4 linked regions of the Homo sapiens genome follow. The protein of the gene in region 2 purifies or fractionates together with the protein of the main gene of each other region. This does not show direct contact. Each region holds a gene or a part of one and is shown on either strand. Other genes may lie near its edges.

Region 1 (4,930 bases), about 110 Mb from region 2:
AGAGAACTATACACAGATAGTATTCCTCATCCCCCTGAATTGACTTATATAAAAAAGAAAACGGAGCATCCGACAAATTGATGCAATCAAAAGGGAGCAATAAGCCTTTTTCTCCTTTTAAGCCTCTTAAGAAATAAACCCATCATTTTATCTAGTGTTTTCTCTGCTCTTGCAGCTGCTCGACTGATCCAAAACATGGATGCCACCACTGAGCCTTGTACAGACTTTTTCAAATATGCTTGCGGAGGCTGGTTGAAACGTAATGTCATTCCCGAGACCAGCTCCCGTTACGGCAACTTTGACATTTTAAGAGATGAACTAGAAGTCGTTTTGAAAGGTTAGTAGAGATTGTGTCTGTGCATCAAAGATTTCTCTCTTAATATGTTCATTTTTTAAATATACAATTGTTAGCCATTACAAGGAATGTCACAGAAGATTAAAAAGTTAATAATCCTTCCAGGATTTGTGTACCACCACCAAGTCACTCTGATAGTGGCAGACACTGAAATTAATGTGTTGACATCTCTTAGCATTCCTGCTTTCATTTGTAGGTATGCAAATAATAAAGCGGTATCATCTCTAGAGATGGCAGGTTTGGTTTTTTGTTTGTTTGTTTGTTTGTTTTTTGAGATGGAGTTTTGCTCTTGTCACCCAGGCTGGAGTGCAATGGTGCTATCTCGGCTCACTGCAACTTCTGCCTCCCAGATTTAAGCAATTCTCCTGCCTCAGCCTCCCAAGTAGCTGGGATTGTAGGCACCTGCCATTACACCCAGCTAATTTTTGTATTTTTAGTAGGGACGGGGTTTCACCATGTTGGCCAAGCTGGTCTTGAACTGACCTCAGGTGATCCACCAGCCTTGGCCTCCCAAAGTGCTGGGATTACAGGTGTGAGCCACTATGCCCAGCCAAGATGGTAGTTTTATGCCATTTTACAGAAGAAAAAAAATTAAATGATTGGCACAGAAACCTACTTCTGTAGTCTCCCTACCCAAACCCTGTGTTAAAGTTACTGTAAGATGTTACTAAGATTTGCCTTCCCAGCACAGGTATATTCTAACCTGGCTAAGACTGTCTCCCTGAGAAGTTAAGAAATCTAGCCAAGTCCCTCCTATCCTTTGTTCTCTGTTCTCCCCTCTTCTAGAAGTTATTTTGTAGAAGAACAATTTTTGCTACTTTTTAACATTGAAACAAGTAGGACAATTCAATTCATTCATTTGGAGCATGAACGGTACAGTCACACAAAGATAATTATTTTCCAGCCATCAAAAAGACTATTCATACTAAATTCCAAATTCCTCTGTGTTATTGTTTTTTTTTAATCTCAATTTCAAGAAAAGTAACTGTTACCTATGGCAGAGCCGTATGCATCACTGTTCATAAAAAAAAAAAAAAGATAATCTAGTCAAAAGGACTTTCATCTAAATTGGCTGATTAAACTGACTCCCAGTTCTGTGCTAGGAATGATAATCTGGTAAGGGGTTTGGTTTTTCCTATAATGTTTTGGAACTGGGGGGAGGAAATGAATGTACCTCCAGAAAAGCAAGGTTTTTTTTTAACTGAACCCACTTTGCAAATGTTAATTACTGCAAATGAGCAATTATGTTTGCATAGTGCAAATGAGCAATTATGTTGATGCATTTTATTAAATGTCCTATTTCAGATGTCCTTCAAGAACCCAAAACTGAAGATATAGTAGCAGTGCAGAAAGCAAAAGCATTGTACAGGTCTTGTATAAATGAATGTAAGTGCTCTTCATTTGATTTCATTAGGAGTATATATATATATATATTGGTGCCAAACTATGCCTAGATTTCTAATTGAATTTATGTTTGTTGTTTCCAAAAGCTGCTATTGATAGCAGAGGTGGAGAACCTCTACTCAAACTGTTACCAGACATATATGGGTGGCCAGTAGCAACAGAAAACTGGGAGCAAAAATATGGTAAGGCAATTTTCCTACTAAAAAAGAAATTTCCATGTAAAATCTATGTTATAATATCATTAGTGAACTAAAGCTTCTAAAGATATATTTTATCTTTTATTGCTTTAGGTGCTTCTTGGACAGCTGAAAAAGCTATTGCACAACTGAATTCTAAATATGGGAAAAAAGTCCTTATTAATTTGTTTGTTGGCACTGATGATAAGAATTCTGTGAATCATGTAATTCATGTAAGTTTGTGTGTCAAATAACTAAAGTTACCTTTAAATTGTAATAAAACTTCCACATACATTGTTGTTATTGATATTTAGAAATAATGCTATTTTCAATTGAATTGAATAAGCAAGGAGGTAGTATATCCATGCTCTGTCCCTAATACCTGGAGTTCCAATTTTGAAAGTATTTTCTTAATGCTGTTTTCGACATTCACCCCTTGCTTCTGCTACCTCTGTTTTAGATACCTCTCCCTTCACAAAACAAATGATAAGAAGGGCTCCAGGCCCCTCCTATTCAGAAAAAGTTCCTAATTTCTTTGTATAGTACTTGAAAGGAGCATGCTTTCGTTTATAGAAGTAATGCAGGTCTAGAAACCAAAAAATAATAATTGCTTTCAAAAAGAACACAGAAAAGGGATTTTAAACATCATTTTTTTCCTCACTAAAGAGTATCTGTACTTTTTTCTCAACTAAAGGTAAATAAAATGCCTTTCTTTTAAAATGGATTTATTGTATTTTTACAAATGTAAACAATTTGATTTAGGTGTCACCTAAGACTAGATTAATGACTATGTTTGGAATGTACTGAAAAATATAAAGAGTTTTTCTTTCTTCCTTTTTTTTTTTGTTTTTTTTTTTTTTTGGTTTCCTGTGTAAGAAATTATACAAAAAATTGCAGGCTACTGAATCACCTAATCATATCTGTGTCACTATTGCATAAATCTTTATGGTCGTTTTTGTTAAAATCATGAAAGGAATTGAACCCAAATCTCCTGCAGTGGGCTCTCTCTCTTCTGAAACTTTCTCCTTGCAGGATCACCTTGAGGACCAGGGGGTGGGGAAGGATCAGGGCCCTTCATGTGGAGATATCTTCTGGCTCTTTCCATACCAGTTCTTTGGGTTATGTTTTCTTTTCTATTGGCCTAGGCTCTCCACAGCTGCTAGGATTCTCTCTTTAACCCAGAAATGCTCTGTTTGGCCTCCACACTCATGTTGCCATGCAGTGAGTAGGAAACAATCTTGCAAAGCTGCAGTATGCCCAGATAGCTCCCACTTGGGTATTAAACATGGACCAGACACGTTAGCGCAAAACTGAGTTTCCTCTTTCACACCCTTAACTGCTATCTGGGTCTACTGAGGTTCTTCTGAGCAGAGCAGCTTTGAGGAGAACCAAGGAGAAGTCGCCTCCATTCCCTTAGGGTAGAGAATCTTAAAAAACATTTTCTGGCACAAGTTACATTAGCTAAAAGATTCTGGAGTTACCTTAGAGGTTTTCCACTTCTCCCCTTCTCCCCATCCATCCAAATCAACTTGAAGAATATTAACCCACTCCCACCAATGAAAGGGGATCCCAACTAAGGGTGGAAGCAGATGAGAATGTTCCCAGGGGAGCACATTAGAATCTCAGGAAGCTGAGAAATCTGTGAATATGTAATTTAGAAATTTCCACGTCCTAGAATCTAACATGTTTTTGTTCACTTGCACCTTCTGCTCTGCATTAAAAATCCCTCCTAGTAAATCTTTTGTTCACTTTCTTTTGTTTTCCTTAAATATCTGCAGCACAGTCCTCCAGATTATCTAACTGCCCGTTAGTATAACACTTACAAGTAGTGTAGAAAGCATTTCCTAACTAGGTATTTATTGAGTGTCTGATGGTCACCCCATAAACAGCAAGAGTAGGATCTTTCACATACATAGATAGACATGCTTGTATTTTTCAAACTTTTCTATATTCACTGAATGATTTATTTTCTTTTATGTATATTTTTTATAGATTGACCAACCTCGACTTGGCCTCCCTTCTAGAGATTACTATGAATGCACTGGAATCTATAAAGAGGTAAAAAGAAAAAAAATAATCAAAACCAAACTACAAAATGATCTGGTGTAAACCTACAAGTAATGAAAAAGATAAAGCCAAATTAAATTTAGCCCTCTGATGTTTTTCATTCATGACAGGGACTTAAAATCACACATAATAGTGAGCTGTCTTTGATAGAATGAACATTCTCAATAGAATGAATGAAGGTATTTTACAAAACTAGGAAACTTGAAATTCCTTATTTGTATCTTGGTTTTTAGTATTTAAAACATATGATCGATTTTGAAAAGTTAATTTAAAATATTTTAATCCACCTGTAAACTGCATTATTTAAAAAATGAAAAGATTTATCATGGTCTAGGGTGGTGCTGGTGAGGACCAGAGGGTCAGTGAGAGATACACTCTGCAGCATCCTTCTGGAACCATCTGATTTGACTGTCAGAGAACTATGCAGGTAGTGACATTGGGCTCAGACAAACTTTTGCAGCTACCTTGTGACTCTAACATTGGCCAGGTAGCCAGTGGGCATCATATCCCATAGTGGACGTTTGGATGTTCTGGAGTGCTTTCTTATTGTCTCACAACCTTGCCTCCCTTGGGCTGATGTTCACGTGCTCTTTTTTTTTTTTTTTTTTTATTATACTTTAAGTTTTAGGGTACATGTGCACATTGTGCAGGTTAGTTACATATGTATACATGTGCCATGCTGGTGCGCTGCACCCACTAACTCGTCATCTAGCATTAGGTATATCTCCCAATGCTATCCCTCCCCCCTCCCCCCACCCCACCACAGTCCCCAGAGTGTGATATTCCCCTTCCTGTGTCCATGTGATCTCATTGTTCAATTCCCACCTATGAGTGAGAATATGCGGTGTTTGGTTTTTTGTTCTTGCGATAGTTTACTGAGAATGATTTCCAATTTCATCCATGTCCCTACAAAGGACATGAACTCATC
Region 2 (5,506 bases):
AGATAACCTTGTTACATATGCTGCTTTTGGGGTTCCAAAGATGAAAATGACAATTCTTTCATCAGTCTGCTCAATTTTCACATTTTGATCTAATTTGTGGCACCTCCCTGGTTTCCTTCCAATAAACAACATCTTCCTTAAACTGGTGGCATTATGTTATTTTTGAGATCTGAATCACAGAGACTGTAATACAAGCAAGCATGCTTCATCTTGTCGTTTTGTAGAATGCTGTACATCTAATTAAAGCTTCTTACAGGTCCATAAAAAGACCCAACATTAAAAAAGCAGTGTGTTGGAGAAAGCCCCAGGGCAGAGTGGAAAAGGAGTTTCTTCATTAACTATAAGCACATTTGCTTAAATTCCAACTTAAGTAATACTATTAATTTGTACTTGAATATCTTAAAATATTGCCGAAGCATAATCAAATCATGTCACCACATTTATGGTGTGGAACCAAAACTGGGTCATATTCTTGCCAGCAGCACTTCAGCTACCCAAGAAATACTGGGGATGAATAAATGATTTACCATGTGGCCAGTACTGCGTCCTTCTCTAGAAGAGTATTGCAGCCAACTTCATTTAAATCAATTTATTATTTTGCCCTTTTTCATTTGTTTTGCTCTTTTATGCCTTGTTTTCCTTAGAAAATTTATTCAAAACCTAGTTAAACAGCAGCAATATAAATACTTTATTTTTCAAGAGCTTATATATTATCGTCATTGTTCTGTAGTTACTGATATAACTCAGGGACTACAGACCCAGGGGTGGAGGCCTTCGACCACTGGAAATCCCTTGGGAGACCATTACAGTGGTATTTTCTCCCTTTAGTTGGCTACAGAGTTCCCTGAATAGTGATATCTCCCTGAGGAGAAAAGTGCATGGTCTTCCTGATTTCTAGCAACAAAAGGACAAATTCTACAAATCCAAGTTAGGAGCTCTTGCTTAATATGCTGCTACAGTTACGATTTCCATGTCAAAATGAGATGACTCTTTTATGGTCTTTTCAGGTCAGAGTGATCCCAGGTGGGACCCTAAGGCGCAGAGGCCTAATCTGAGGCTTTCCCTGGTGCTCTCCCACCACCTGATGCAAGGGTATTAGGGTAACTGGGAGTCCCCTTGATCAGAAAACCCTATGTTATTACCCTAAGAATCAAACTGTTTGCACCTCCCAACAATCCACTCCTGCTTCCCAATCATCTTCAGACATGCAAAGTTGATGCATAGAAGCTAAAAGGCTTTTGACATTTGCAGGTCAACAGAGATTTGCTAAAACCATCTAGATTTCTCTTCGCAGTCCAGTCAATTCAACCAAGCCTGCAGCATCTCCGCAGCTCTTCTGGCTTGTGTCCTTCCTTGCTAGGGGTCCTTTCTTGGGGAAGGGTGGACACAACGTGGGAACAGAAGGGGAAAAGCAGGTTGAAGAAATCTGGCGTCTGGTTTGTTGGTGTTCCCTTCCAGGAACCCTGAAGAGCTGGTCTCTATTGCATGCCATGCTTCCAGGGGTGGGAGTCGGGAGTCCCCTCCCACCCTCTGCGGCCATCCCTAAGCTCCCTTCCAGAGCAACCTGGCCTGGCGACCATACCACTGAACCATCAAGGGCTATGGTTAATGCCCGGCGTGTTTTGAATCTCTGACTTCACGTGCTTTGATGTGTCCCCACGACCGTTTACTTTTCTATGCTGTTGCCAGAGGCTGCCTAGCAGGGCCTGTGTCTCCCGCTGACCTTTAAGGCCAGCACTGCATTCAGATGTTGGGCTTTTCCAATTTTGCTTAAATAACAACAAAATCAACCGAATTTTTTCAAATTAGAGTCCCAGGGAGAAGAAACTACAGAGAAAAAAATCATATTATGTATATATATGTATATACATATGTGCATGTGTGTATGTATATGTATTTTTACAATTTTTTTATCCTTGTTTAAACCTGGGCGGGAACCAAAGAGTAAAGCGCGTGCGGCTCCCTGCCCCCTGCCGCCAAGACGCAGTCCTGTACAGACGCGGTCCCTTCCCTCCGATTTCCCCTGACAGCTCGCGCTACTTTTTCCCGGCCATTGTTCCGTGTCCCTGGTGCTTCCTCCTCCCCCGTCCTCCATCCTCCTTGGGCGCCTTGCCCGCTTTGTCCCGCCAGCCGCCTCAGCCCCGACTCGCCGGGGTCAGAAAGCCGCCAGGATGCCCTCCAGCAGCCCGCGCGCCGGCCGCAGGTGCGCGCCGCCCCGCCCTGCCCTTCCCGCGGCCCCGCCCCAGCGCTGACGTCACAGTGACGCGCAGCCCGCGCAGGCGCAGCTACCCGGCACCCCCTCCCCGCGGCCGGCAGCCCGCTCGGTATTATGATTAGCGCTGGGTGCGGGGTTTCGGCGGCCGGGAGGGAGTTGTCGGCGCCGCGGCCGCTGCGGACGGACGCTCGCCTGCCGGCTGAGGTAGGGGCGAGCGCGGAGCGCGGCGGGGCGCGGCGGCCGTAGGCAGGGGTGCGGGGCCGGCCTCCGCCGCCTCAGTAGCCTCCGCTGTTGCCGGGCTGGGCGCCCGGGCCGGGGCGCTCGCCGCAGGCGGAAAGTAAGTTGCGCTCTCGGCGCCGGCCGCAGCGCGCGGCCCGGGAGGACGCGGGGCCCGGGCTGCGGTGGCCCGGACCCCGCGGCGCGGCCTGGCGGCGGGGCGGCGGCGGGGCCCGGCGGGAGCCGTCACTGCGGCGGCGGCCGCGGTCGCCTGGAGGCCCTGCCCTTGCGGCCGCGGCGGGATTGCGGCACCTCGGAAGGCGCCCGCATCCCCGCGCCCCGCCCCGGAGCGGGCCGAGTGCGGCGCCCGCGGGGCCCCGCGCCCTGGGCGCTTGGTAGGGTGTGTGTTCTTTGAATGCGTTTTCCCCTTTCAGAAGACTGTAGAAATCCGGCCTCAGCAAAAGGGTTCCGTGGTCAAACTGCTTTACAATAGAGTGGGGATGTTGTCTGTAGAGAAAGGGCAAAGGGGTAAGGAAAGAGGAGCAGTGCCATTCCCGAGGGAGAGCTAGAATTTTTGCAGACTGGGAGACTGGGAAATCTACGTTCTTTTCCATAGTCATCGCCTGTTGATTTCTTTCTGGTCCATTTTACAGGGACCTTCCTGCCTTTTACTTGGACTTGGGTTGCAGGAAAGTGGCAGCCTTTTATCTTCGGGGTTCTTGGAGCTGTGCTATTTGTAACTGTTGGATCGCATACAGTCCAGTAGTTTCATAGGGAGTTTCAGGCTTTGGGGAGAATTTAGCAGTGGAGTTCCTAAATCTATAGAGGTCTGAGGATATGGGACCTTTCAAACTGTCATGTTACTTTCCACCCCCCTTCCCTTTAATTATGTGCATTCTTAAAGTCTTAGGAACCGTGGTAAAGTTGACTTAATGCCTTAAACATTTTGTCAGGTTTTAAGGTGAAGCATGGCTTGCAAGTGTTGGACATCCTGTTGAATCTCCACCAAGTTCCTATCAAACATGAAATGCCTGAGTTTGGGCTCCTTGTATGGGATTGGAGCACTATGTCCCAAACCAGTCTTTAACTTATCAGAATATATACAGCAGTGTACTTTAAAGCCCGGGTTGTCAAGGCTTATGTAATCAGTTTGTTAATTTATAATCTCGTTACATTGCTTTCCAGATTTATAAAATAATTCCCTTAAGGAAATCTGTCCTCAACGTCTGCTTAAATATTTCTCTTGGAATTGGATTCTTGAAGAGGAATGTACTGTACAAGTGATGATTAAAGCATACTAATTAGACAAGTTTCTTTTTTTAAAGAACACCAAATACCAAATTTTTAATCTGATTATCTGTGTAATTGTCCTTGAGAGGAGAACAGGTGGACATTCCCATTTTACAGAACTAGAAATGAGAGAAATTACATGACATTTCCAAGGTCACATATTGAAGCAGTGTAGAAAGTCAGGTGCACAGTGCTAACTTTTTATAATACTCTCATCCTGAAGGCTTTTCAGGCAGGAAACTTTCAGTGCCACCTTTCAATTTTTTTTTAAATTTGTATAATCAGTTTTTAATTGTTCATTTTGTGCACAAAAATTACTCTCACCGTATTTTTTAATAATTCTGAGTATTTTTTTCTGTTTTACTGCAGTAAGATCCATTAGTCTAAAACATGCTAGAACTCAGAAGTTGTACTAATTTTATTTTTCTAGACCAGAAGTATAGGTTGGGTCTTTATGGTTTAGATTTAATCACATAATCCTAAAAGAAAGGCTTTTAAATGTCCTTATTAAAATTGAAGGGCTTTCGTGATATTTTTACTGGTCACAGGAAATACTGTTCATCTGAACTTCACTGTGAGTACTTCCCTCATACAGAAAGTGAAACCAAATAGAAAAATATTTATTTCTGGAGATACTGAGCAGCCATGGTTCTAAGTACTGGTATAAATAAGACATGATTTCTTCCCTGTAGCAGCTTGTCTAATCCTAAGAGCTCTTTACACTGCCCAAGAAGAAAAGGGTACAAATGAACTTTCCATAGGCCAGAATCTTAGGAATTAAAAACCGTAGATGAGAAACTCTAGACTTAATGTAACTGCATCCCAGCTGTTTGCTTAAAGATAGAGTGTTTATAACTAAGATGCTTTAGTAAGAAAACTGTTATTCAGAATTTAGGTATTTCCCAGTGTGTATCTATGTGCAGGTAAACTTAGAACAACTTAGGTGGAAAAATTGAGTGGATCCTAGCAGTTCTGAAGATAAACTTAACCTTTGATCATTTATTCATGGAATGTTTGTGTGTCTCTTTTGGTGGCCCTAGGGTAGAGGGAGGGCAGCAGTAGAAAAGTGAATAAAAACCAGTTCCTGACTGTAGGTTCTTAGAAGCTACTGGGGAACACCAAGGTAAACAGTAACAGTACGAACAGATGAACTGTGGTGAGGCATAGGGAAAAACCTGCAGAAGCACAAGGATGGCGGCAGTGAACAACCTGACATGGAAATGCTTCACAGAGGAGGTGATGGTTAAACTGGTCTTGAAGAATAGGAAGAATTCCCAGGCAGAGAAAAAGGGAAAAGGCTCAGGGGGTTCAGGGAGGGTGAGAAGACAAGGTCAAGTGGTGGGTGGGAGAAGAACATAGATCCAAGTGGGTGAAAGGGAGTTGAGAAGGCTGAGACAATGCAACTGTTCTTTCCTTAAAGCATTTGAAAAGGAAGGAGGGAAATGGGGCAGTTGCTTTGGGGGATGGAGGAGAAGGATTTTGGTGAGGTGTTTGTTTTGTTTTGTTTTAACTTTGGGAAGAGCTGGTATAAAATTCCTCAGATTTAATGGCCTCACGAGTGAGCACTGGAACTGTGTTGTCTGCTCTGGATAATCCAGAGCTACGTCATTGATCCTCATCTGCTTTTCTGCACATCTGCTTTGGGTTGTGGCTCTGTGTCTCATGGGAAACCATTTCTTGCTGGTGGTAGGGAAGGAACCTGTCTAAAGAGGATTCCTGCTTTGCCCTCCCTGAACATTTATTTCTCTGCTGTCACTTCCAGAGCCTCCTGAGAGTCTGCTTTGG
Region 3 (4,930 bases), on a different chromosome or scaffold from region 2:
TGCGGGAACAGTATGAGGAGGAGCAGGAAGCCAAGGCCGAGCTACAGAGAGCAATGTCCAAGGCCAACAGTGAGGTTGCCCAGTGGAGGACCAAATATGAGACAGATGCCATCCAGCGCACAGAGGAGCTGGAGGAGGCCAAGTATGTTCCAGACTTAGTTAAAATGGAACTATAAGTTTCCTTGCTCCCAAAACATATGAAAAACTAGGGAAAAAACATTCTGGGACCATATACAGCCATATTGTTGGAATTAATGTTTTGGTAGATGCCTTAGAAGAGATTCTGAGAGGAGTTCTCGATGCAAAATGTATATTGATGTGGGAAAGCTTCTTTATTATTAATGGATTAATTAAAAACTAGCACAAATAAGGGATACAATTAGACAGACAAAATCAAGTATATTTCATTTGAATTCAATTTATCCAACATTTGAGCCCTTAATATGTTGGACAGCCTACAAGAATACAAAGATTAGTACAGTACAGACTCTCCCTCTGGGGATTAAAATTATGTGGAGACACAGAAAAACAAACCAGTAATTCAAGGTAGATATTAATATTCTACAGAAGAGGAATAAACCAGCTACCTGGAAGGGTAAAGTGTTAGCTCATGCTTGTCATGGATGGCCTTAAAGCCACTCTATGAAGTATGGCAATACCAAAACTGGGGTTGTTTTTGGTATTTGGTGGTAGGATAATGGGAATGAGTTAATATAGAACTGGACCTACAAAACAAGCTTGAGAAGCAAAGTATTAAAGAAGTCTGATTGTGGAATTCACTCTCTTGTACCCACTTTGAAACACCCAATTCAGTTGACAGCCATTCACTTTTATTGCCCATATTTCATAGGAAGAAGCTGGCTCAGCGTCTGCAGGATGCTGAGGAACATGTAGAAGCTGTGAATGCCAAATGTGCTTCCCTTGAGAAGACGAAGCAGAGGCTCCAGAATGAAGTTGAGGACCTCATGATTGATGTTGAGAGGACAAATGCTGCCTGTGCCGCCCTGGACAAAAAGCAAAGGAACTTTGATAAGGTATTCTCTCCAGTTTTTGCTTCAACTTTCAACACAGAATTAACAATAGCCTGCTACCTTCAGTGTGCCCAATTCAAACCATCTGAGGGCTGTTCTCAGTAGCTCTTAACCCATCAGCAGCTGTCTGTGGAGAGGGGAAGTGCTCCTATGGTTTCTATTCTTCTCATTCATAATTTTTTTTCAGTCCCAGAACACCTCAACTCTGAGAGGTGCTAGAATAGATGGTTTTTATCTCATCAAATTTTGTCCACTAAATTTCTTGTCCATTCCTTGACCTTCAGATCCTGGCAGAATGGAAACAGAAGTGTGAAGAAACTCATGCTGAACTTGAAGCTTCTCAAAAGGAATCCCGCTCACTCAGCACAGAACTATTTAAGATTAAGAATGCTTATGAGGAATCTTTAGACCAACTTGAAACCTTGAAACGGGAAAATAAGAATTTGCAACGTGAGAACATTTTACCTTTTCTTTAACAATAAAAGATTTGAAAGAATCTTTTCCAACTATAAACAAATTTCTATATTTTTTGTTCACCAACAGAGGAGATTTCTGATCTCACTGAACAGATTGCAGAAGGAGGAAAGCGCATCCATGAACTGGAAAAAATAAAGAAGCAAGTTGAGCAAGAAAAGTCTGAACTTCAGGCTGCCTTAGAGGAGGCAGAGGTAAGCATTTTATTGCATACTCTAAAACAATTAGAAGAGGAATTGGGGTCTATTAAATGTAAGGAATGGTGAATCAAGAGAAACGAAAAATAATTTTTGCTCCATGAACTAGGGATGAGAATGGAGAACTGATCATGCATACAACCAACATAACCATATGTCAGGAACTGTGCTACACACTGAGCAAACAAAGATGAATCAGTTAAAGGCCCTGCTTTCAAGGGCACAATCTACCTAGGGAGATAAAAGCATATAAAATCAACAATAACATTCAATAATTTGTAGAAATGTCTAAAACAACAAAATAAAAATGTATGATGGCAGCACAAAGGCAGACAGTGTGTGTGTTAGAGAATAGCAAGAAAATGCAAAGGCATGAAAATGACACTCTTGTTTAAATCTTACTACTACTTAGAAATCTATTTATAAATAAGGTTTCATGAATGATAAATCATTCTTATCTCTAGAATACTACACACTTCCATTACTCTACTAATGTCACCTCTTGCTGTCATTAAGGCATCTCTTGAACATGAAGAGGGAAAGATCCTGCGCATCCAGCTTGAGTTGAACCAAGTCAAGTCTGAGGTTGATAGGAAAATTGCTGAAAAAGATGAGGAAATTGACCAGATGAAGAGAAACCACATTAGAATCGTGGAGTCCATGCAGAGCACACTGGATGCTGAGATCAGGAGCAGGAATGATGCCATTAGGCTCAAGAAGAAGATGGAGGGAGACCTCAATGAAATGGAAATCCAGCTGAACCATGCCAACCGCATGGCTGCTGAGGCCCTGAGGAACTATAGGAACACCCAAGCCATCCTCAAGGTAAATATGTCCAACAGATGATCCCAGGACAATTGGGGTGCCTGCAACCCTGAATACATGGTGTCTCAATGACGGTTTGTTCCACAGGATACCCAGCTCCACCTGGATGATGCTCTCCGGAGCCAGGAGGACCTGAAGGAACAGCTGGCTATGGTGGAGCGCAGAGCCAACCTGCTGCAGGCTGAGATCGAGGAGCTGCGGGCCACTCTGGAACAGACAGAGAGGAGCAGGAAAATCGCAGAACAGGAGCTCCTGGATGCCAGTGAGCGTGTTCAGCTCCTGCACACCCAGGTGCATGTAATAATAGAATAGCAACAAATACAAGGGTATGAAAATGACATTCTTGCTGAAATCGTGGTACTATTAAGAAATCTATTTATAAGATTTCATGAAGGATAAAGTTTAAAATATTTTATTTTTTTGATTATCTATATTCTTATCTGAACTATAACATCCATAGTTGATTTTTTTTTTTTTTTTGAGACGGAGTCTCGCTCTGTCGCTCAGGCTGGAGTGCAGTGGCGCAACCTCGGCTCGCTGCAAGCTCCACCTCCCGGGCTCACGCCATTCTCCTGCCTCAGCCTCCGGAGTACCTGGGACTACAGGCGCCCGCCACCACGCCCGGCTAATTTTTTGTATTTTTAGTGGAGACGGGGTTTCACCGTGTTAGCCAGGATGGTCTTGATCTCCTGATCTCGTAATCCACCCGCCTCGGCCTCCCAAAGTGCTGGGATTACAAGCATGAGCCACCGCGCCCGGCCAGTTGATTGTCTTTTAAACATATGTCAACTCAGATAATTTATGAAACAAGGAGGAATATTAATGAATTCATTTAGTTAATTAGTTTATGGTTCATTAGAACATGAGGTTTCCTAATTTTTCTCTCATGTGCCTAATATTTCTAAATTTCACATTTTAAACAGAACACCAGCCTGATCAACACCAAGAAGAAGCTGGAGACAGACATTTCCCAAATCCAGGGAGAGATGGAAGACATCATCCAGGAAGCCCGCAATGCAGAAGAGAAGGCCAAGAAGGCCATCACTGATGTGAGTGAAGGGTAACACAGTGGTGGTCAAACTTAAATCTTAATGTGCTGTCTTAGCTGTCTTAACCCATTCTGTTTTACTGCTAATTAGGCTGCCATGATGGCTGAGGAGCTGAAGAAGGAACAGGACACCAGCGCCCATCTGGAGCGGATGAAGAAGAACCTGGAACAGACGGTGAAGGACCTGCAGCATCGTCTGGATGAGGCTGAGCAGCTGGCCCTGAAGGGTGGGAAGAAGCAGATCCAGAAACTGGAGGCCAGGGTGGGTCTCCTAATCAGCATGTATTTCTATCTCATTCCAATCCAACACACGATTCTGAATACCTAGCACTGCTAGATGATGTGGGGCATACTGAGATGAGGGAGAGCTATTCCCTCATGCCCAAAAGCTCATAATAAGGAAAACTGAACTAGGGCATTAAAAACTACATATAAAGCAGAGTAGAAGAAGTATGTGGGTCATGTGAAGAAGTAGAAATTCGTCAAATGAATGTCCTTAAAATGTCCATCTTCTTGTAGGTTCGTGAACTTGAAGGTGAAGTTGAAAGTGAACAGAAGCGCAATGTTGAAGCTGTCAAGGGTCTACGCAAACATGAGAGAAAAGTGAAGGAACTCACTTACCAAGTAAGGAAAATGGCCTGTCTAGGTTTTCACTTTAGTCCACATGGGATTAAAAGTCATATGTATGACAAAATGTAATATTTGTACTTTCAAGAAACTTACTCTTGAAAACATTATTTCAGACTGAGGAAGACCGCAAGAATATTCTCAGGCTCCAGGACCTGGTGGACAAACTGCAAGCAAAGGTGAAATCCTACAAGAGACAAGCTGAAGAAGCGGTGAGTTCACAACCCCTTGGGGTGATTTTTCTCAGACATGACCAGGCCAGTTTAGTTAAAGTGACAAAAGAAAAGATGAGTAAAATGAGGAAGGATCAAAAGAAAACAAATGGCTACATGGAGGTCCAAGGCTGAGGTAAAACCAACCACCTGACAAGCCAGCAGAAGATGTTCTAGAGATGGGGAAGAGCAAATGCAAAGCTTTTGAGTGGGAAAGAGTCTGGCTCAAGAAGCAGACAAAAAAAGGAGGAAAGCACCACAACTGGGACTGGAGAGCCAGGCAGGAGGCAGCTCATAGGGTCTTCCAGGCCATGGTAAGAACAATAAGGTACTGGGAAGCCAGGGAGGGTTTTAATGTGGGTCAGTCACTACCTGATCTATATTTTTTAAAAAGAGCATTTGGGATACTATGTAAAGAATCGGTTACTGGGTAACACAAGTGGGTGCAGAGAGACATGTTAGGAAGCTTTTCAGGTCGGTTCTGTGGCTTGGATAAGAGAGTGGAGCAGAGAGAAG
Region 4 (4,930 bases), on a different chromosome or scaffold from region 2:
CTGGAGAAAGAATCACAGATAAGTGGCTGCAAACTTAGTTGAAAAATAAGATTCATTCAGGCTCAATCAGAGAGGCCAGCTGGGTAGAAAAAAGGCTCCACTCGATGAACACAGAAATCAGCAAATACGCAAGAAGTAGCCCTGCCAATTCAAAACAGTATTTCTTTTCTTCCTTTTTCTTCAGAGGGAGCTGGTGGAGGGGCCAAGAAAGGTGGTAAGAAGAAGGGCTCTTCTTTCCAGACAGTGTCTGCCCTTTTCAGAGTAAGGAAGAAATTGTTTTTGACATTCTCCAATTACTTTGGGATTTTTTTTACATGGGTCTGTTTTTCTGAACTTCTATTTTTGTTCTAAGGATATATTTATCTATTCATATACTAATATCACATTACATTTATTAAAATTACTTTGTAATATGCTTTGACATCTCGCTGGGCAAAATTCCCCTCGTCTTTTCTTTTTTTAAATTTATTTTTTATTTCAATAGGTTTTGGGGAACAGGTGGTGTTGGGTTACATGCATAAGTTCTTTAGTGGTGATTTCTGAGATTTTGGTGCACCCATCACCAGAGCAGTGTACACTGTACCCAATGCATAAAATTTGCTTTTAAAAGTACAAGATCATTCCATGAGTAGTTTAGAAAAGGACTGATAGTAACTAGTGACTCTGTTGATCTAACTTTGGAAAGAAGGGATTTAAATTACTCAGAAATTATTAGTTCACTTTTCATGCTAAGTCAAATAATGAGAAATATTTTATAGAAAATCTTATAGACCATAATACTCTGCCATTCATAATCTAGCTGAGCCATGAAAAAGAGCAATGACATGAACTCAGAGAGACTAAAAGACATCAGTATGGCTAATGAACTCATGAATTCTAGCAGCAAATCTGCAGTGCAGCTAATATGGTATCCTTGCTCTTAATCGAGTCAATTTTCAATTATAATTGGTAGGATTGCTCCCCTGTAGATAATCTCTATCCCCTAAAAATTGATAGAGCTGGAAAAGAGGAGCTGTATTATAAGGAAAACGTCCAAATGTGGTGCAGGCTTCCATTTCCTTATTGGAGAACTATGGAATTTGGTAGAAGAAAGAGCGATCATCTCGCATGGGAAGGCAATGGCCTTGTAAATGTATGTGTATGGCCAGGGACCAGGGTAGAAAGGATGGTGTTGGCATAAACTGAAAAGAAGCACATGCCAGGATGCTTTCCTTGTTCTGTGTGTAACTCTCGGAAACTCAAGTGCAGAAAGATCTATTGAGGAGGAAAAAGCATCTCAGAAGAAGCATTCAAAGTGTTGCCTTATATGAATGCAGTCCATACTGGTCATTCAACTCAGCTATAGATATTGATTTTATAGACACCAATGACTGCTCATATCCATGTCTAGAGCCTAAAATGACAGGATTTTTCCTGGTTTTACAGGAGAATTTGAACAAGCTGATGACCAACCTCAGGAGTACCCATCCTCACTTTGTGAGGTGTATCATCCCCAATGAGACAAAAACTCCTGGTAAGAAATTCCATAATGAAAGTGCAAAGGATGACTGCCACACCTCCTTTTCAACAGCTCTGCAGTGAAATAAATATGCATTTTTAGGTGCCATGGAGCATGAGCTTGTCCTCCACCAGCTGAGGTGTAACGGTGTGCTGGAAGGCATCCGCATCTGTAGGAAAGGATTTCCAAGCAGAATCCTTTATGCAGACTTCAAACAGAGGTCAGTTTCTCCTGATTATGGTGTATTCTGAAGTTTAATATGAACAAGTTTAATGCAAGCAAAACAATTTAGTGAAACATATGCCTCTACTTGTTAGTTTTGTCACAAAAAGAAGTAAAAAAATTACAAGTCTCAAGTCTCGAACACTTTTGTTTTGAGACAAAGTCTTGCTCTGTCACCCAGGCTGGAGTGCAATGGCGTGATCTCAGTTCACTGCAACCTCTGCCTCCTGGGTTCAAGCGATTCTCCTGCCTCAGCCTCCCAAGTAGCTGGGACTACAGGCATATGCCACCACGCCCAGCTAATTTTTGCATTTTTAGTACAGATGGGGTTTCACCATGCTGGCCAGGCTAGTCTCAAACTCCTGACCTCAGGTCATCCGCCAGCCTTGGCCTCCAAAAGTTTTGGGATTACAGGCATGAGCCACCATGCCCAGCCTCAAATACTTTTAAAATATAAATATACAAAATTTTAAGCACCTTGTGGAATTTTCATTGGATTTATCAGGCACTTAGCTTAGCTCATAGATGCACACGTTAACTCCAATAATAATTAAGAACGACCTTTTTGAGTGCTTAATATGTTCAGATTATCTTGTTTAATCCTCGCAAAAACACAGTGCAAGTAGGTACTATTAAGACTTCACTTTATAGATGAATAAGCTGAGGCTCAGGGAAATTAAGGTACTTGCCCAAAGTCACAGTTATTAAGTGGTTGAGTTAGAAACTCTTCCATACAAACATAGCTATTCATTTTCTGTCATTTCCTTTGGTATCATCTATGTTCGTCTTTTTCTCCCACATATTAGACTCCCAGGGTTTCCTGGAGGCAGAGGGAACATGTCACAATGACTGTTCCTCAGGTCCCTTTTCTCCTCTCTAGATAAGCCCATCTTGAGAATCAAAGAAAAGGCAGAGGTGGGGAAGGACTGGGTAGCAGCTGCTAGGAGCTGATCTCTCCCAGGTCTGGGTCAGGTGGCACTGACAGAGGATTCCAGGGCTCAAGATCCAAAGCATGTCTAAGTTTGATTTTAGGTGATTAGGATAGTTCTGAATACCTAAAGTGTACTGTCTACCAAATTCTTCAATGAAAAGTAGCTTTCTTGGATTCAGGGCCTTAAAAAGCAAATGCATCTAGTAAAGATAACAGATTACATTTTATTGGTTAGGCACACCATAATGTGTCCCTTTCTTAAGGCAGAACCCTTTTCTAAGAACAGGGTCTGATGAGACAGAAAGGAAAGTTGCAACTGCGAGGGAAAGGCAAATGGAATAAAAATTGGTTGCCAAAGGGTTGACCATTCAAATAAACAATGTTCTCCTTGTGAACAAAGAATAATATTTTTTTAAAGCTCTGCTTTAAAAAATGAATCATTTAATGTTTAGCTAGCATTTGTGTCATCAGTAAACTAGTTGTTAAAAGCTATATGTACTTCAACAGATACAAGGTATTAAATGCAAGTGCAATCCCTGAAGGGCAATTCATTGATAGCAAGAAGGCCTCTGAGAAGCTCCTTGCATCCATCGACATTGACCACACCCAGTATAAATTTGGGCACACCAAGGTAATTTTCTGTAAATCCTACCTGATGCTATTCCTGTCCCTTTGAACTTTATTAAAGCTTGTGATTTGCAACTCTTTCCATTCACAGGTCTTTTTCAAAGCTGGTCTTCTGGGGCTCCTAGAGGAGATGCGAGATGACAAGCTGGCCCAGCTGATTACCCGAACCCAGGCCAGGTGCAGAGGGTTCTTGGCAAGAGTGGAGTACCAGAGGATGGTGGAGAGAAGGTATAAAAAATATGTTTATTCACATATTCCATCTTCAAAAACATATTTGAAATGGCTTACAGTTAAGACTCAGCTTATGATAAGGACACTAAAGAAGAAATGAATAAGAGTCCTATAATGAAGTGGGAATACACATGTACCAGAAAACTTAAGGAAGGAACCATCACCATCTGATTGCATGGGTAAAAACTTGAGAAGTTAGGTAAGAAGTGTGTACTTCTTATCTAATAAGATAAAATACACCAGTGAGTAAGCAGAAGCAAACTTTTGCCCTAGCACCTGTTTCTAATATGAATTTATTGGACAGATCATTAGATAAGGGACATTGACCTGCAAAACAGACAGTATACTCAAGAGTGCTTTTACACAGGCTGTAGAGACAACTTTTTCCCTCTGATCATTTATATTATCAAACTCTCATGATTTAAAATATTAGGGGCCATTTATCTGTGAAAGACTTTTTGCAGTAAGTTAACACAATGCATCAGGGAATGTAGCTATTTGGTGATCTAATTTGATGCAAGGACAGAGTTCAAAGACTATAGAGCCAGGTGTCTCAAAGTACAGGATGTCTGTGATCAGGACCATTTCTCCATGTTGAGAAAGGCATTTTACATTGCCACCTATACATCTACACATATACATATGTGTATGCAGATATATAAATAATTTATATGAAGCAAATTTTATTTTTACCACTTGTAATTATGCTAATATTTTCAACTATATTCCATTTTATTAAAAATAATAAATTTTGGTCATGATCCACGATATATATATATTTGGGTAATTGTCTATATATGGGGTAATTAGCTGTAAAAATCATTTAGATGAAAACAAAAGTGGTATTAGAGAATAGAATACAAAATTCACACAACATTAACATATAAAGCCAGATATTTTCTAAGAAATTCTGAGTTTTTAATATCTCCTGCCCCATATACCCCTAAAGAGCTGTGTTCCCCCTTCACTGCCCTTAGTGGTGTTTTAGTAGCAATGTTTGAGAAGCACTGACATACAGCAAGGCTTCTCAAAGGGTGCTCCTTGGACTTGCAACATCAGCATTTCTTGCAAACTTGTTAAAAGTGCCAATTTTCAGGCTCCACCCTAGATCTTCTGAATCTGAATCTGAATCTACGGAGGTGAGGTTCAGGAGTCAGTATTTTAACAAGCCCTTCAGGTGATTCTTATGCATGCCAAAGTTTGAGAAGCAGTGATGTAGAGAAATGAGTGACCTTAGCAAGACCTTGACCATCATCCCGAAATAGAATTTTTTCATCTGCATGTTTGAAAGCAGAGTAGGAACAAGGTGAAGCAGAACCTCCAACTCTCACTGCCAAGGTTTCATCCCATTGCATCAACCACACAATACTAATTTGCATCAATTAAATTTCAGGGAGGCCATCTTCTGTATCCAGTACAAT

Evidence for each region.
Region 1: the proteins of SNRK (region 2) and MME purify together in Homo sapiens (affinity purification with mass spectrometry; one large-scale study listed by BioGRID and IntAct). This does not show direct contact.
Region 3: the proteins of SNRK (region 2) and MYH1 purify together in Homo sapiens (affinity purification with mass spectrometry; one large-scale study listed by BioGRID and IntAct). This does not show direct contact.
Region 4: the proteins of SNRK (region 2) and MYH2 purify together in Homo sapiens (affinity purification with mass spectrometry; one large-scale study listed by BioGRID and IntAct). This does not show direct contact.

Annotation. Positions count from the first base shown.
Region 1 is NC_000003.12:155,114,819-155,119,748, forward strand, and holds part of MME (neprilysin), read left to right. Parts: intron 1-175; coding exon 176-337; intron 338-1,660; coding exon 1,661-1,741; intron 1,742-1,845; coding exon 1,846-1,941; intron 1,942-2,049; coding exon 2,050-2,168; intron 2,169-3,927; coding exon 3,928-3,993; intron 3,994-4,930. UniProt on the Homo sapiens protein: Thermolysin-like specificity, but is almost confined on acting on polypeptides of up to 30 amino acids. Biologically important in the destruction of opioid peptides such as Met- and Leu-enkephalins by cleavage of a Gly-Phe bond.
Region 2 is NC_000003.12:43,284,257-43,289,762, forward strand, and holds the start of SNRK (SNF-related serine/threonine-protein kinase), read left to right. Parts: upstream 1-2,283; 5' UTR 2,284-2,419; exon of another isoform or gene 2,420-2,552; intron 2,553-5,483; exon of another isoform or gene 5,484-5,506. UniProt on the Homo sapiens protein: May play a role in hematopoietic cell proliferation or differentiation. Potential mediator of neuronal apoptosis.
Region 3 is NC_000017.11:10,493,838-10,498,767, reverse strand, and holds part of MYH1 (myosin-1), read left to right. Parts: coding exon 1-142; intron 143-850; coding exon 851-1,034; intron 1,035-1,315; coding exon 1,316-1,481; intron 1,482-1,574; coding exon 1,575-1,699; intron 1,700-2,218; coding exon 2,219-2,527; intron 2,528-2,614; coding exon 2,615-2,818; intron 2,819-3,450; coding exon 3,451-3,576; intron 3,577-3,666; coding exon 3,667-3,837; intron 3,838-4,094; coding exon 4,095-4,199; intron 4,200-4,318; coding exon 4,319-4,414; intron 4,415-4,930. UniProt on the Homo sapiens protein: Required for normal hearing. It plays a role in cochlear amplification of auditory stimuli, likely through the positive regulation of prestin (SLC26A5) activity and outer hair cell (OHC) electromotility.
Region 4 is NC_000017.11:10,531,861-10,536,790, reverse strand, and holds part of MYH2 (myosin-2), read left to right. Parts: intron 1-184; coding exon 185-261; intron 262-1,425; coding exon 1,426-1,513; intron 1,514-1,600; coding exon 1,601-1,718; intron 1,719-3,158; coding exon 3,159-3,282; intron 3,283-3,369; coding exon 3,370-3,506; intron 3,507-4,902; coding exon 4,903-4,930. UniProt on the Homo sapiens protein: Myosins are actin-based motor molecules with ATPase activity essential for muscle contraction.